Regions from separate parts of the Homo sapiens genome. Here region 2 is reported to be linked to region 1. The links are microRNA targets in miRTarBase. Many come from high-throughput screens and were not tested one by one. Region 1 holds a microRNA gene; the other region holds the end of a gene's coding sequence.
Evidence for each region. Region 1 holds the annotated microRNA hsa-miR-548aj-5p (UGCAAAAGUAAUUGCAGUUUUUG, at 5,539-5,561, opposite strand). A microRNA usually pairs through its seed, bases 2 to 8, with sites in the 3' UTR of a target mRNA and lowers its output. Matches are read on the target gene's strand: a 7mer-m8 pairs with bases 2 to 8, a 7mer-A1 pairs with bases 2 to 7 and ends in A, and an 8mer does both.

Region 2: miRTarBase lists ZZZ3 as a target of hsa-miR-548aj-5p. Seed matches in the 3' UTR shown: 7mer-A1 at 3,378-3,384.

Annotation. Positions count from the first base shown.
Region 1 is chrX:38,018,411-38,026,894 of GRCh38, forward strand. MIR548AJ2 (microRNA 548aj-2) reads right to left here and starts at 5,576; the gene lies at 5,485-5,576. The region is part of intron 1 of SYTL5 (synaptotagmin like 5); the gene reads left to right.
Region 2 is chr1:77,559,181-77,566,820 of GRCh38, reverse strand. ZZZ3 (zinc finger ZZ-type containing 3) reads left to right here. Exons shown (of 15, transcript NM_015534.6): 14 at 640-740; 15 at 1,037-4,405. The coding sequence ends at 1,181. It overlaps AK5 (adenylate kinase 5), which reads right to left. Exons shown (of 14, transcript NM_174858.3): 14 at 6,855-7,640. Among named protein-coding and RNA genes, the nearest start is that of ZZZ3, 120 kb to the left of the region's middle.

The DNA of each region.
Region 1 (8,484 bases):
ATAGACATCTGATAAGCTATAAACAGTTTATGGGAAGTTTCCTATTCTAAATGCCTTTCTGGACAGGTCTTTGTTGTTGCATCATAAGTACCTTTGTTGTTGCACCATAAGTATCCGGACCTCAACATATCTAAATTGCAATTAATTATTTTTTTTTCTCTTTCAACGTTTTTTGTCTTGTACTCTCCATCACTGTGAACAGTATTATCATCAACATTTCTAGGCTTTACCCCCGTGTTACTGAATCAGGCTCTCTGGAGATAGACACCCAGAAATCTATTTTTAACAATATACTTAGGTATTCTTATGCACACTAAAATTTAAAAACCTTTGCAGTTCCCCATGCTGGAAACCTCAGAGTCATTCTCTTTTCTCTTCCATACCACCCACATCGAAGAGGTCACTGGATCTTATTGAGATTATTCTAAAACGTCCCAAAAGTGACTCTTATTTTCCTTCCCACTACACAGCTTTAGTTCCTAATCTCTCCCTGGCACTTCTGCAAGAGCCTCCTCATTTTGTCTACCTGACCTTTCCCCTGTCTTTCATCCAATCACTGAGTGCTGGTCTTTCAAAAAACAAATAAAAAATTCAAATATGATTGCGCTGTTCCTTGGCTTTAAAGCTTCAACAGCTTGATGGCATGAGAACAGTTTTCAGGCTTCTTAAGGTCATGGAATTCTTTCTTCAAATAAAATCCTACCAGGAAATCTAACTTATAGAACAGATGAAAACGGAGCTGCTCTGTTTGAAGCAGTCGTCGGCGCCACAGGCTTGGCCACTCAGCCTCTTTCGCTGTGTTTCCTAAGAAAACATTCCTGAAGATACAGTTTGAAAAACACTGGATAAAGTCCATATTCTTTGTTTGGATGCCAAATTCCTCCCACTCTGACATCCCCCTTTCTCTTAGCTTTCCAATATTAACCCAGACCCCAGACCTGGAGTTAGTCACTATTTCTTCTGGACTAGTTGTGTGTTCTTATGACTTTTTCACATTTGCTGTCTCTACAACCTAGAATGACCACTTTTTTCTTCCTAATTGTTTTTTCCTTTGTGTTCTCAAAGCCAAAATTGGGATTTATGAAACTGTGATTTTATGTTTATGCTTGTCTCCACTAGAAAATAATAGAAAATAGAGAAGCCCCTTGAAAACAGAACCTATGCATTCTTCATGAATGTATCCCCTAGATCCAGCACAGTTTCTTTTTTTGTTTTTTATTTGTTTGTTTGTTTGTTTGAGACAAAGTCTCACTCTGTCGCCCAGGCTGGAGTGCAGTGGCGTGTTCTTGGCTCACTGCACCCTCCACCTCCCACGTGGAGGGTGCCTCAGCCCGGGTGCCTCAGCCTCCCAAGTAGCTGGGACTACAGGTGTGTGCCACCATGCCCAACTAACTTTTTATTTATAGCAGAGATGAGAGCTCATTATATTGCCCAGGCTGGTTTCGAACTCCTGAGCTCAGGTGATCCGCCCGCTTCGGCCTCCCAAAGAGCTGGGATTACAGACCTGAGCCACAATGCCTGGCCCAACATAGTTTCTGACACATGATTCTATACGTGTTTACTGCACGAACATTTATATGCTCTATAACTCATTCTATCTGTTCTTTGGTTTTATATTTTCTTCAGACCGAACATGTCTTTTTGAATTAAACATCACTTTAGGAACTAGATGTATTAACTTCAAAGCTATATGACACTCATACTGTTCTTTGCCTGTGTTGTAGCCTAGCATGATAATTATTGATAATCAGTGGATATATGCATTGTGCATCATGACATATGAAGCAGAGGTAATATGGCTATAAGATATTTTTGACAGAAATGCCATTTGCTGTATTTTTTTAACTGATTTTATATGTAACATGTATTCATTGTAAAAACATATAAAGAAAATTATAAAGAAGATATTAAAATACATTTATAACTATCCAGAAATAGACTTAATATTTTGGCTTATTTTTTCTCATTCTTTCTTCTATAATACATATATGTGTGTGCATATATATATATATATATATATATATATATATATATATATATTTCTTTTAATATAATTGGGACCATACTGCATAAGTAATTTTGTATCCTGAGTTTTTTTCACTGCCTTTGTATTGTGAGCCTTCAAGCATGCCATCACATATAAAAAGACTATTAGTATTATTAATAATGGTATTAATTAAAAATTATGATGTTTCTAAGGAATTGCTAAGATTTATAAATTCTTAATAGAAAGTCTAGGAAGCCAGAGACCTCTGGGTATTTTGTGAATCAAAGGGAATGGAGGTTTGTGTTGGACTGATGCATTTTAATGACGTATTGCTTAACTTCATTGAGAATAGAAACGATGGAGGGGTCTAAATTTTCTGAGCATCTGTTATATGCCAGGCATTGTGCTAGACACTTTTTATACATTAACTCATTTTAATATTCAAATGATATATTCTTCAAACCCAGGAAGTAGATATTAATATGCCCATTTAACAGATGAATAAACTGAGATGCAAAGACAAAGTAGCACATCTATGTTATTATCTCAGGGAGTAGAATTTTAATTCCATTAGTTTCCAAAGCCCATACCCTTTCCTCTACCCCACACTTTCTCCAACACCAACTTTGAGAGGGTACACAAAGTCAGTCTTTTATTCTGAAGATGTTGTATTAGCAGTGCTTACCCTGTGGACCATAAGCCCTTGGGTGACCACAGTTTATAAACCCCTGAAATTACCTCCCTTTGTCATTAGAATGTATATGTATATTTTTGAGGTAGAGAGCCTATAGTTGTCACTGATTATCTAAGGGATCAACTGTTCCCAACAATGTTTATGAATCTCTACTGCAAATAATGGGATGTATACAAGTATTGCAGAAGCCCTTTGAGGAGTCTTTAGTTTTGCTTGTCAGGCCCTGTGGTGAGGGGCTATATTCCAATTTTCATTTTAGGCATCACTTCTCAAATGTCTTATTTTGCATTTAATTCATAAATTTATTCATTTGGCAATATTTTCAAATACCTACTATGGTGCCAGGAGTTGTGAGGTGTTAGGAATACAGGGCTGATCAAGACAAAACGAGATATCCCACAGAGCTTAGACATTAGCAGGGAAAACCAATGCATGTTGGTTAAAATCAGCATTTTAAATCAGCATGATGAGTGCTTGGCATAGTCCTTAGCATTGTTCACCAAATATTTACGATTTCTTCCTCTTGTAGGCAGATGGCAGGATACCATTTACTGGCCCCCTTGTAATTGGGTAGGGCTAAGTGACCATCAGTTCTGTTTAAGGAGTTGTAAGTAGAAATAATGTTTTTCACTTCCAGGCCAGGACATTTAATTCCTACTATGAAACCTTTCAGAACTCTTTTTTCCCTCTGGTGTGGCAATTGGCAGTGTTCAAGATGGTAGCTCCCTAAACAGCCTGGATTCTTGAGGGATATATAGCATGGCCAAGAAATATGAAATAAACCTGTGCTGTTACAAGCTGTTGCAATTTGCGAGTTATTTGTGTCACAACATAGTCTACCCCAGTACTGCTCAAAATGTCTGTGATGAAGGATCAGGTTGTTTGTTACTTTTATTTTCAACCTGGATAGAATAGTATTTTTGCAAAATACAATTTAAGTAAATTAGCAGATAAATGAGACATGAAATACATAAACATTCAAGTACAAATTTTCATCAGATTCAACAGATTTAAAATTACTCTGTCAAATTACTATAAAAATTTCTAAATGCTTATTCTTAATTTCTTTACTTATATAATTGCAAACCAGTAAGTTTACAGACCTGCACTGGTTTGCAACCCAAACTTTGAATAAAGCTGTATTAGCCTATCCCAACTGATACAGTGTTACTGTAAGAGAAGTATGAAAATGTATTGGATAGATACTATGAGTTTCCAATTGCTGCTGTAGCCAATCACCACAAACATATTGTCTTAAAACAATACAATGTATTATCTTACAGTTCTGAAGGTTAAAAGTCCAAAATGAGTCTTGGGAGACTAAAATCATGGTGTTAGCAGGGTTGCATTTCTTCTGGAGCCTGCAGGAGAATCTGTTTCCTTGTCTTTTCCAGCTTCTAGAGGCCATCTGCATTCCTTGGCTTGTGGCTGTTCCTCCAACTTCAAAGCCCATCACCTCAGCCTCTGCTTATGTCGTCACACCTGCTTTTCTGACTTTAACTCTACTACCTCCCTCTTGTAAGGATCATTGTGATTACATTGGGATCACCCATCTAATCCAGGCTAATCTCTTTATCTCAAGACCTTTCACGTAATCACATCTGCAAAGTTTTGCCATCTAAGGTAACATATTCACAGGTTCTGGGGATAAGGATGTGGACTTCTCTGGGAGCCATTATTCAGTTTATCATAGATAGCTAAGCTAAACTAGGAGTCAGCCATTTAAGTAGATCCCTGTGGATACTTAGGAATTAGGAGATGGAGAAATGGGGGAAGTATCCCAGGCAGAGTCTTACAAATAGGAAGATCTGGAGGTGAGGAAGATTATGGCTTTTTTAGAGGAATGAACTTTTGAGTGTGGTTAGAGGATAGATACGAGAGAGAGAGATCAGCAAGGGACAAATCATGAAGGGTTTTGTAAACCATATTAAACAACTTGAACTCTTAAAGAGCAAAGGGAAGACATCAAAGGGTATTCAGTATAAAAGCAACAATTATCAATTTGTATTTTGGAATTGCATATAGAAGAGCCAGATTGGAGGCACAAAACTATGATGCTGATGAACCACGGTGGTGTCACCTAATTCACAGCATGTCTGAAACCCAAATCCATTATTTCCCACAAAAGCCAGCACATTCTCCATCTTCCCTATTGTTTTCTTCTAGGATTCAATTCTTAACATTATTTTTAGCCTCTTTCTTTCTTTGGCTTCTTACTCTAGTCAGTCACCACACCTTATTGGTTCTTGAAAATTTTTTAAAGACATAATATATGGTTACATGAATACATCCAAAATAATAAACAATATGGAAATAAGTCCCTTTTCATCCCTTCTCTGACCCCTAACAATCCAACTCTCATCTTCATATGCAACCTGATTCATTATCAATATGTATTATCCTGTGCCTTTTATTATGCATTTACATTTATTATGTACATGCATATATCTACTGCATTGTTTTAAAAGCATTTGCATTAAAAAGCATAATTATCTTGTCTATTTTCAGCTCGCAATATAACTTAGATATTTTCCATGTCAATATATTTATTTTAAATGCCTCATTTTAAAATTGAACATCGGTATTGCTCTCTTTTCCAGCTTCGAGAGCTTCTAACTCTAATAGATTCTAACAGTTTCTAACTTTAGACTATTACAAACTTTATCTTATAACTTATTTTTCAAATCTTTCTCTTTTGAAATTTTTATTAAGGCTTTCTCTTAGCCAGCATTTTTAAAGGTAGAAGTAGTCTTCTCTTTAAAAATATCAAAATACACAATGCCAAGAAAATAAACAGTGATCTTAAATATTAGGTTGGTGTAAAAGTAATTGCAGTTTTTACCATTAAAAGTAATAGCAAAAACTGCAATTACTTTTGCACCAACCTAATACCTTTTTCCAAACTGAGAGCTCTGTGAAAATTCACAGTGGACATTAAAGACTCTGAGAAGTTCTGTAGAAAAAAAAATATTTAACTTGGTTTAACTCTACATATCCAAATTTTTTGTTGAACTACATCACTTGATATGGTTTGGCTGTGTCCCCACCCTAATCTCTTGAATTGTAGCTCCCACAATCCCCACGTGTTGTGGGAGGGACCTGGTGGGAGGTAATTGAATCATGGAATCATGGGGACGGGTTTTCCCATACTGTTCTGGTGATAGTGAATAAGTCTCACGAGATATGATGGTTTAATAAAGGGCAGTTACCCTGCACTCGCTCTTTTGCCTGCCACCATGTAAGACGTGCCTTTGTTCCTCCTTTGCCTTCCACCATGATTGTGAGGACCCCCACCCCAGCCATATGGAAATGTGAGTCCATTAAAGCTCTTTTTTTTTAAATAAATTACCCAGTTTCAGGTATTTCTTCATAGCAGTATGAAAATGGACTAATACAGCACTGTTAACAATTCCATATAATATCTAATAACATCTCATGGGATACTGTTGTTCCATGAAGTCACTGTGTGGCCTCAAATGTAGTGGTTACAAGCAGGGTCCCTGAAACCAAACTATTCTGAATTACTTACCAGTTGACCTTGGGCAAGTTACTTAACATCTCTGTGCCTCAGTTTTCTCATCTATAAAATAGGAATAATAGCAATTTGTTTCATTAGGAAGTCATAAGGATTAGTTGAATAAGTGTTAGTGGTTATTATTTGGAGCATTCTGAGGATACTGCTCTTGAAGTATTGGTATGAAGTTGATGGCACTGTTAGCCTCTCTACTGTTATTTGAAGAATCCATATCATTGTGAAATTAAAAAAAAAATCTTGACTATGGCACTCCCATATAATGTACCACACAGAATTGCCCGTGTGAGAAGAAACAGCTCTGTTGCAAAGAAATTCCTGTAATTCCATAGCATCTCTCTTTGAGTCATTCAGTTTGGGGTTCGTTGTAAAAGTACTACTTTTTTCTCTATCCACAGCATGACAGTTCTTACCTTTTGACAGTCTTGTGGACTGCTGTGCTTGTGGTAATCCAATCACAGCTGCTTTGCAGGATGACTGCTCCTCTATTTGAAAGGCATCCTCAAGGGTATTTTGCGTATGTGATTTAGCTTGTATTCTAAGCATCCTAAACATCTCTGTAAGTGTGCTGAAAATTCATCTAATTTGTATTGTCACATGGTGACAGTCAAACAGGAAATTAACTTTATTTCTATTAATTTCATCCTAAGAGCACTCTCAGAAACATTCTATATTTAAAGCTGCATTTCAAGTACACAGTAATGAGATATATTCAGATATACCCTTTCCTTTGATTCAAATATCGGCCCCTATTATTTTTAGGTGTGTGTTACTCAAAATAGATGCTTTTTAAACTTATGTCCCTTTGTGATGCTATGAGAGTATTTGACTACCACATCTTTTTGATAATCAGAAGTTAATGACTTGTCCAAAGTTATCTATGCTGAAAGGCAATAGAATGACATACAAAGCATCTTGCCATCTTTCTAAACAGCTTAGCATAGTTCAACAAAGTTACTGGCCACAGAGGGAAAAATCTACATCTATATTTAAAGAGAGAGATCTGTTTAAGTTAGGAATTGAACAATAAAAGAAAAATGAATTTCACCCTCCTAATCTGACTAGTGTTTACTAGCCCCATTTAACTAAAAGAATGAGGATCAATTACTCATTTTTTTCTCTACTTGATTAAAATGTGTAATGGGTAAGGGATTCTCCAGGTGAGGTATGAAATCGCTGAAAAGAGACACACAGTGATGATATATCCTCAGGTGAAGTCATTGCAGTCCAGATGCTGGTCTTCAGTGCAAAGGCTGAAAAATTTGATTTGGTTAGCACACAGCAAACAGATCTGACATGGGTTCAAACTAAACCAAATATGGAGAACTCCATAGACAGGACCAGAACATTCACTCCTGAAGGGAGAGCTCTATGGGAAGCCAACTTATAATCAAAAGTGTCTGGAAGGAAGTGAGATTGAGCAAGGGTAATTAGCTGTATGATTTGAGTGATTCGTGGCATGAAAATTTCTCAGAATGAGGCTCCATCACCTAGCATGGAACATGCGCTACAGGGAACAAACAACTATTTTCATTTTCATTCCCTTTCTCTAGTTGGAGTCTGGATGGGCACTGACATCACCTAGCTCCTTAGATCTTCCTTGTCTATGCCTTGGTTCACTGTCTCCTTTTCTTCACCCTGTATTTCTCCGGAAGGACTGCGTTATCATCAACTGCATTCTATCTTACTAAATTTATAGTCATAGTTCAGTGCTGCCTTCTGGAGAAAACATCCTGATTTTCTTGATAGAGTTTTGCCTACTTCTGATCTCCTTAGCCAACTGTTACTGGAAAGGGGTCCCGATCCAGATCCCAAGAGTGGGTTCCTGGATCTCACACAAGAAGGAATTGGGGGTGAGTCCATAGAGTAAAGTGAAAACAAGTTTATTAAGAAAGTAAAGGAATAAAAGAATGGCTACTCCATAGGCCGAGCAGCCCCAAGGGCTGTTGGTTGTCCATTTTTATGCTTATTTCTTGATTATATGCTAAACAAGGGGTGGATTATTCATGCCTCCCCTTTTTAGATCATACAGGGTAACTTTCTAATGTTGCCATGGCATCTGTAAACTGTCATGGCACTGGTGGGAGTGTAGCAATGAGGATGACCAGAGGTCACTCTTGTCACCATCTTGGTTTTGCAGCTTCTTCACTGCAGTTTTATCAACAAGGTCTTTATGACCTGTACCTTGTGCTGACCTCCTGTCTCATCCTGTGACTTAGAATACTTAACCCTCTGGGAATGCAGCCCAGTAGGTTTCAGCCTCATTTTACC
Region 2 (7,640 bases), not on the chromosome of region 1:
CTGTCACAATGCCACCACGCTGAGAAAGAGCTAGATCTGCCTTTTTGACATGATGGGCATTGGTTATTAGGAGTCTTTAGGCTTTGGGAGAGCGATTCAATAAGAGATAAAAGTTTAGACAGAATTTCATTGTTGCCTGGGTTTATGTTAGCCAAGAGAACCTGCTAAAACAATTCTGTATCAATTACCAACAGTGAAGCACTACAGGAGGCAGCTGTGGCATTGCTTCCTTAACCAGTATTTGGATAGTTTTAACTATGGTATTAACTCTCTGTTTCTCAACCATAGTCATCATACAGTGGTCTGAGGTACCTTTCAAGTAGATGATTACAAATAACAAAACACCCAAGTTGGAGATGATTTACTTTTAAAAATTTTTAAATAAATTTAAGCTGATTGAAGATTATCCCTTCCAATGTTCCTCTCACTCACCCATATCTTGATATTGAGTGGATGGAATTTTACCTAGTTTGCTAGAAATTGTCTCTAACACATAACCATTTGTGTGTTATATTACTGTCCTGTGCATGGAGAGAGAAGAGAAGATGTCTGTGTGCACATCATGTGTTTCCTTGTGGAAAATAAAAAAGATCGTGGAACAGTATAACTTAATACATTTTCTCTCTGAATCTGTTATAGTGTGATAACTGTGGCATAGAACCCATCCAGGGTGTTCGGTGGCATTGCCAGGATTGTCCTCCAGAAATGTCTTTGGATTTCTGTGATTCTTGTTCAGACTGGTAAGTGTTTTCTTCATTGTCAGTCTTCAACTTAGACAAGAAAAGAGCTTCTCAGCCATTAGTGAATTTGATTTCCAAACATAGAAAATATTAATACCCACACTTAGTGAATTAAATTTTGTTGTTCTAGGCAATTAATTTTTTTCTGTAATCATACCACATGTCAAGTAACTTTCCGTTGGAGATTTTGATAGATTAATGGATTTAAACAGGGAGAGCTGTGAGGAAGCTTTGTAATACACAGACTAAAATGCATCCACTACCATGTAATGATGTGTGTCTTTTTTTCTTTACAGTCTACATGAAACAGATATTCACAAGGAAGATCACCAATTAGAACCTATTTATAGGTCAGAGACATTCTTAGACAGAGACTACTGTGTGTCTCAGGGCACCAGTTACAATTACCTTGACCCAAACTACTTTCCAGCAAACAGATGACATGGAAGAGAACATCATTTACTAGTCCTCTTCAACACATAGCAATGGTATCATTGTTAATTATGTGCACAGTTTGGAAAGATTCTCTGCTTTCCCAGAAATGACACTCACAGCATGAGAGCTTCCTGAGTGTTCTCGTCAAGTACAGCTCTGCACCGTTGTGGCTCTAGATCACTGTTCAGCAGCTGAACATTCCTGGTGAGCAAAGGTTTCCCTGGTGAATTTTTCACCACTGCGTTTTAGGTGGTGATCTTAAATGGGTGAGATGGAACGAGAGCACACATTAAAGAGAGAGTAAATTCCAAAGGTTTCAAAGAACTTGGTCATAAATATGATAATGAGAAGACAAAGTATTTATATTAAAACAGTTTAGTAGCCTTCAGTTTTGTGAAAATAGTTTTCAGCACAGAAACTGACTTCTTTAGACAAAGTTTTAACCAATGATGGTGTTTGCTTCTAGGATATACACTTTAAAAGAACTCACTGTCCCAGTGGTGGTCATTGATGGCCTTTAGTAAATTGGAGCTGCTTAATCATATTGATATCTAATTTCTTTTAACCACAATGAATTGTCCTTAATTACCAACAGTGAAGCACTACAGGAGGCAACTGTGGCATTGCTTCCTTAACCAGCTCATGGTGTGTGAATGTTATAAAATTGTCACTCAGATATATTTTTTAAATGTAATGTTATATAAGATGATCATGTGATGTGTACAAACTATGGTGAAAAGTGCCAGTGGTAGTAACTGTGTAAAGTTTCTAATTCACAACATTAATTCCTTTAAAATACACAGCCTTCTGCCTCTGTATTTGGAGTTGTCAGTACAACTCATCAAAGAAAACTGCCTAATATAAAAATCATATATATGGTAATAATTTCCCTCTTTTGTAGTCTGCACAAGATCCATAAAAGATTGTATTTTTATTACTATTTAAACAAGTGATTAAATTTAGTCTGCACAGTGAGCAAGGGTTCACATGCATTCTTTTATACTGCTGGATTTTGTTGTGCATCATTTAAAACATTTTGTATGTTTCTTCTTATCTGTGTATACAGTATGTTCTTGAATGATGTTCATTTGTCAGGAGAACTGTGAGAAATAAACTATGTGGATACTGTCTGTTTATATTATAGAATGCTTGTTGTGACTTCCTTTTGGTTAGATTTTGGATTTTTTTTTTTACCAGTGTTAAAACCAGAAATTGGTATTTTTTAAAATGGTTTGCTTCACATATTTAAGAGTTTTCTTTCTGTCATTTATGAAGAATAAGGAATGTATTATGGAAAAGAGGGTGATCTTAAGCAACCCTGTAAAAAATGGTAAAGATTTTTACTCAGTGTGTGCTGAAACACTAAATTAAACTAGCTTACAAAAAGGAAACACGGACCATGGTTAAAGAAAAAGGCAATTATTAATGCTCAGGTGTGAAAACTAAAGTTGAAAATTTTTTTTCTAGTTGTGTCTCATGAAGATAAGCCCCCATGTATTTAAACAGATGGCTTTTGAAAAATCACCTTGTTTCCTGGAAATTACTATTAACTATAGGAAAAGATAGTATAAATATTCTAAGATTGATTGTTATATTTGACCCAATTTTTAGAATCACCTGTTTTTTCCTATTTTAAATCAAGGGAACATTATTTACTAGTTCTCTTCAGTACATAGCAGGGTACTAAAATCATACCCTGAATTTTTTTTAATTGAGAAAAGTAATAGAATTTTAAATATAGAAATATGAGAATTTTAAAGTAATATATTGATTAAAGATCACTGATGATATAGATATAATATATCATAACAGAAGGAAAGTAAATGGACTTGAGCTTAACTTCTCACCCTGGAATTATTAGTGGGTGAAGAGGGGAATCATTAGCATTCTGGGCGTTTTTATATTAAATGTTTTGTGAATATGCCAGAAGATCTGCCTTCAACTTGTAATTAGGCAAGATAGTAATGCTTGATGGTAACTTCTATGTTTGTGTAGAAATAATACCAGTTAGTTTTGGAAAGCCATTCAGATCCATTCAAAAATTCCATAAAGTATGATGTATGCTTTGGAAGAGGGATATGAGTGATACAATTGTTATATAAATGGAATAGACAAACCATTTGAATGCATTTTTCTAGGGCAAACATTTTTTGAGATTTTTGAGTTAAGAAGATTTTTCGGCTTGAGCAGAAGATGTGTTTGTTTTGCATTTTTCAGCTCCAAGGAAACAGCCCCCATGGCTTTAAAAGGCCCTGAAGTTCAGATAGTAGTAGGTAGTGTTTTGTTATTGTTTTAATTTGAGAGTTGCAGGAATAATGGGCAGAGCTGTCATTTGCCGGTAGGCTACCATCTGCCTACATAGAATTATTGGACTGTAAGCTAAAACAGACTGTAAAAGACCTACTTGCTAAAGCATTGCTTATTCAGTGGTATTCAGTAGATAAGATCTATTTCCTGATATATTGTGCTCAAGTTATTTGCACATCTTAAGAAACTTTTAATATCTAAAACCATTGTTGTAAGATTTAGGTAGAGGAGGTTTCCTTTTGTGTGATGCATAATAATAGAAAACACTGATACAGTGTTTACTATGTGCCAAGCAAGCATATGATAACTAATTCTTAACAACTCTATGAGGCAGGGTCATTTATTATCCTGTTGTCATATGAGGAAATCTCGCCAGAGAGAAGTTAATTAACCTGCCCAAGGTCGTATAGTTAGTAAAGTGGTCATGCTTGGATTTTAACCTAGGCAGATTACTTCAGAGTCAGCGTCTGCCTTACTATCCTGTTTCCTGAGCAGGAATTTCCCCTTGTGTCAGGCAACACTAGGTGTTAGGAGTGGAGGTGTGCAGATGTTGCCTTACATTCTGTTTTCCTGATGTGGTGTGCTTCCTAAGAGTACAAACCTGAGCATATGTCCAGGCTTGCAAAGTCTCAGGCAAAGCTGGGACTAAGGCTTGTGTTTCCTGCCTTGGGTAGGATTTTCTTCTATGCATGTTGGGTGCTTCTCACTTAACCTAATAGTATGCCTTGTCTGTTTTCCCCCCTTCCCCTTTTTGTTTAAATTGATTCACAGAACACAAAAATTTACTAGGTATGAACATTTGAAAAAATGGAATAGAGAAAATGGTACATCACATGTAATAAAGATAAATATTGTTTTGTGAAATGTCTTTTTCAATCATAAATATGTGTTGTGTGCTATATAAAACTATTTCTTATTGTGGATATTGAAGTTTGAAGCCTGTTGTTCATCTATAGATGCACTGGATGGGATTGGAAGTCTTCAGATTTCAGTAGGGTTTTCCACAAGCTTATGAAGACATTGTTCTGTTTAGGCTGTAAACTGTTTTTATTTCTTGATGAAAAATGTTCTTCTATTTATATGATCCCAGAAAAAAGATACAACTTTTTTTTTCTACAGTTAATGTAGCTAGTTAACTAGAGTTTTCAGAGTTATAATACATTTAGCTCCATGAGAACAGAGACGATCCATGTCTGTCTGTATCTCTAGGGCCTGGCATTTAATAGATTCTCAATAAATATGTGTTGGTTGTATGACCAACATTTTGGTGAGTTTACATTTTTTTCCTCCAGGAACTTGAGAGACACCACCTATGATTGAGTGTGTCTGTGAGATCCTTAGAGGCCTTGCATCAGAAGGTCATCTTGACAGTTCTGTGAGAGGACAGGGGAATTGGACTCTATCTTACCCAAAGGCTGTGATTCAACCCTGGGTGGCAGAGGTGGTTTTGGTTCTCTGTGGGACCCTAGATAGGCTGTGTATCTTGATTCTCTTCCATGTTTTTAAGAGTAGTGTAATGGGGCTGGGCATGGTGGCTCACGTCTGTAATCCCAACACTTTGGGAAGCCGAGGCAGGTAGATTGCTTGAGCCCAGGAGTTTGAGACCAGCCTGGGCAACATGGCAAAACCCTGTCTTTACTTAAAATACAAACAAATGGGCATGGTGGCACGTGGCTGTAGTCTCAGCTACTCGGGAGGCTGAGTTTGGGGGAATCACCTGAACTTGGGACGTTGAGGCTGCAGTAAGCCGAGATGGTGCCATGGCATAATAGCCTGGGGGAGAACGCTGTCTCAAAAAAAAAAAAAAAAAAAAGCAAGGTAATGGAAAGGACACTGGAGTGAAAATTCTGGGTCTTAGTCCCAGTTGTGGAAGTGAAGCACTCAGTAAGTGTTGACAAAGAACTACCTTTCATTGCACATTAGGAGCTAGTAAATGATTCGTGTGTCTTACTAACTTTTGTTTAATCCTCAGTTCCTCTATGAGGTTCATTACTATTATGTTCTCCATTGTATACATGAGAAAACTGGAGGTGCAGAGAGTATGTTAAATATGTTAGCTCTCAATAATAATTACTGTGTGTGGGACTGGAGATACCAAGCCGTGTCCTTATGGAGGTTATAATCTAATGCAGAAGACCAGCAATAAGTAAGTAAATAAAAACTATTACTTCAATTCAGGCAGGGATAAATGCTTTGAAGATAAGTAATGCTCAGAGAAAAATAATAATGGGAGAATGGGGAATAGTCTGCCATTTTAGATGGAATAAGCAAAGAAATCCTCTATTGGCCAGGGTAAATTCAAATAGAAACCAGAATAGAGCAAGGGAATTTGCTGCATGAATAATCTGTAGGAAGGGGCAGAAGGATAGCAGTAGCACACGGGCCCTGAGCCAGTAGACCGTGGCTTGTTCTGGCAACATTAAGATGGCCAGAGTAGCTTAAGCCAAATGAGCAAGAGGAGAGTAGTAGTTGATGGCGTCGAAGAGGGCACAAGCCAGCTCAGATGTGGCCTTGAAAACACATCATTGTAAAGGAGTTTAGATTGTGTTCTGATGTCTTCTACATACACACAGGTCTTTCGCTAGACAGAGACCTCTAAGGTCTTTTCCAGTATTAAAATCTTATGACTTTAAAGTAGTGATATCATTTCAAGCCATTCAAATCAGTAATGTGTTCTAGAGAAGAGTTGATTTGCACTTCTAGATACTCTTCAGGGGCAAAGCCATTTACCCTTGCTAAATTTTTCAAGGTGGCTGTCAGCTACAGCCGTAGAAGCCTGTAAAAGATGGCTGGACCTTTCTGCCCCTCTGCTGTCTCATTTTCCTTACCTGTGCAGTCAGAGCTGTGCTGGGCATGGACTGTGTCTGCCAGTATATGGTATGTGTTTCAAGAATGTCAATCCCTACAAAGAGTCATTTTATGTTTTCTGGCACAACTGATGATTTTCATCCTGTAACCTTTTTTTTTTCCAGTTTGCTCAGGTACTTATTATGCTCCCCGATAGAGAGTGTGACAACTTGGGGTAGTATTAAAGTATTTGACAACTGTTGGGAGTTATGGGAACATGCCCCTTTTTGTTAATAGAGGCGTAACTGTAACCAAAGAAATTTAATTTCTTCTTTAGCAAACACTAACATTTCTGTTTCAGAATGAGTGCTAGAGAAAGAGGAAATATGACAGTTACCATGTATCATGAATACATTGAGTTCTCTCTGTAATAACTCAAAACTGATCTATAGCTAAAATTAAAACCATATAAGCGTATCGTAAATCATCTTGACTATTTCTGTGTTCGCTTCTAATTCTGTTTGGAATAAGGCTTCAAATGCTTTCCAGAATGATGTGAGTTACAAATAAATAGAAAAAGAGTTATCCTGTCTTCCATTTATTTTATTTGTACATATCCATTTCAAGAAAAAAAAATGACTTAAAAAATACAATTCTATCCCAGAAATGGATCCTTATCTGCACAGCCATTGAAGAAAAAAAAAAAAATTCATGCAAACTGAAACTATGCTTTTTTGTAGTGACTGAGTGGAAGATGCAGTTATTCCAGTAGAATATATAAGCAGCTCTGATTTTACAACTGATTGATAGCACAAAAGAGAACCCAAACTTCACTGGTTTAATGCAAGGAAACACAGTTTTGCATATGGGTATGACAAGGTTTGCAAACTCCTGGAAAGGGCCCATATGAAACAAACACATTGAACACACCACTTACTGACATGCCCCTCCCACCCACATCAGGTTTGTTAGGGTATTTTTTTACTTGCTTGGCAACAAATAAATACATGGGTGACCATTTAAAATCAAAATTATAATTTGATATGTGCCCAATGAATGAAATAGCAAATATCTCATGCTTTTAAGTTACTTTTGGTCATTTATATTAATTTATAATTGCTGAAATGCATCACCATGTAGAGAAGAGACTAGGTTACACAATTTATCAGATTTGTTCTCTTAGCCATGACGACAGTATTCCAAGTTTCTAAAAAATAATAATAATAGAGAAGGTTACTGATGACTAACCTGGGTTTTACCATCATCTTGGGAAAGCTATACATCTTCATATTTTAAAATTTCTGTCAAATTTTACTTGCTTGATGCCTCTATATCATGTACAAGGCATTGTGTAATCAACCCACCTTATGG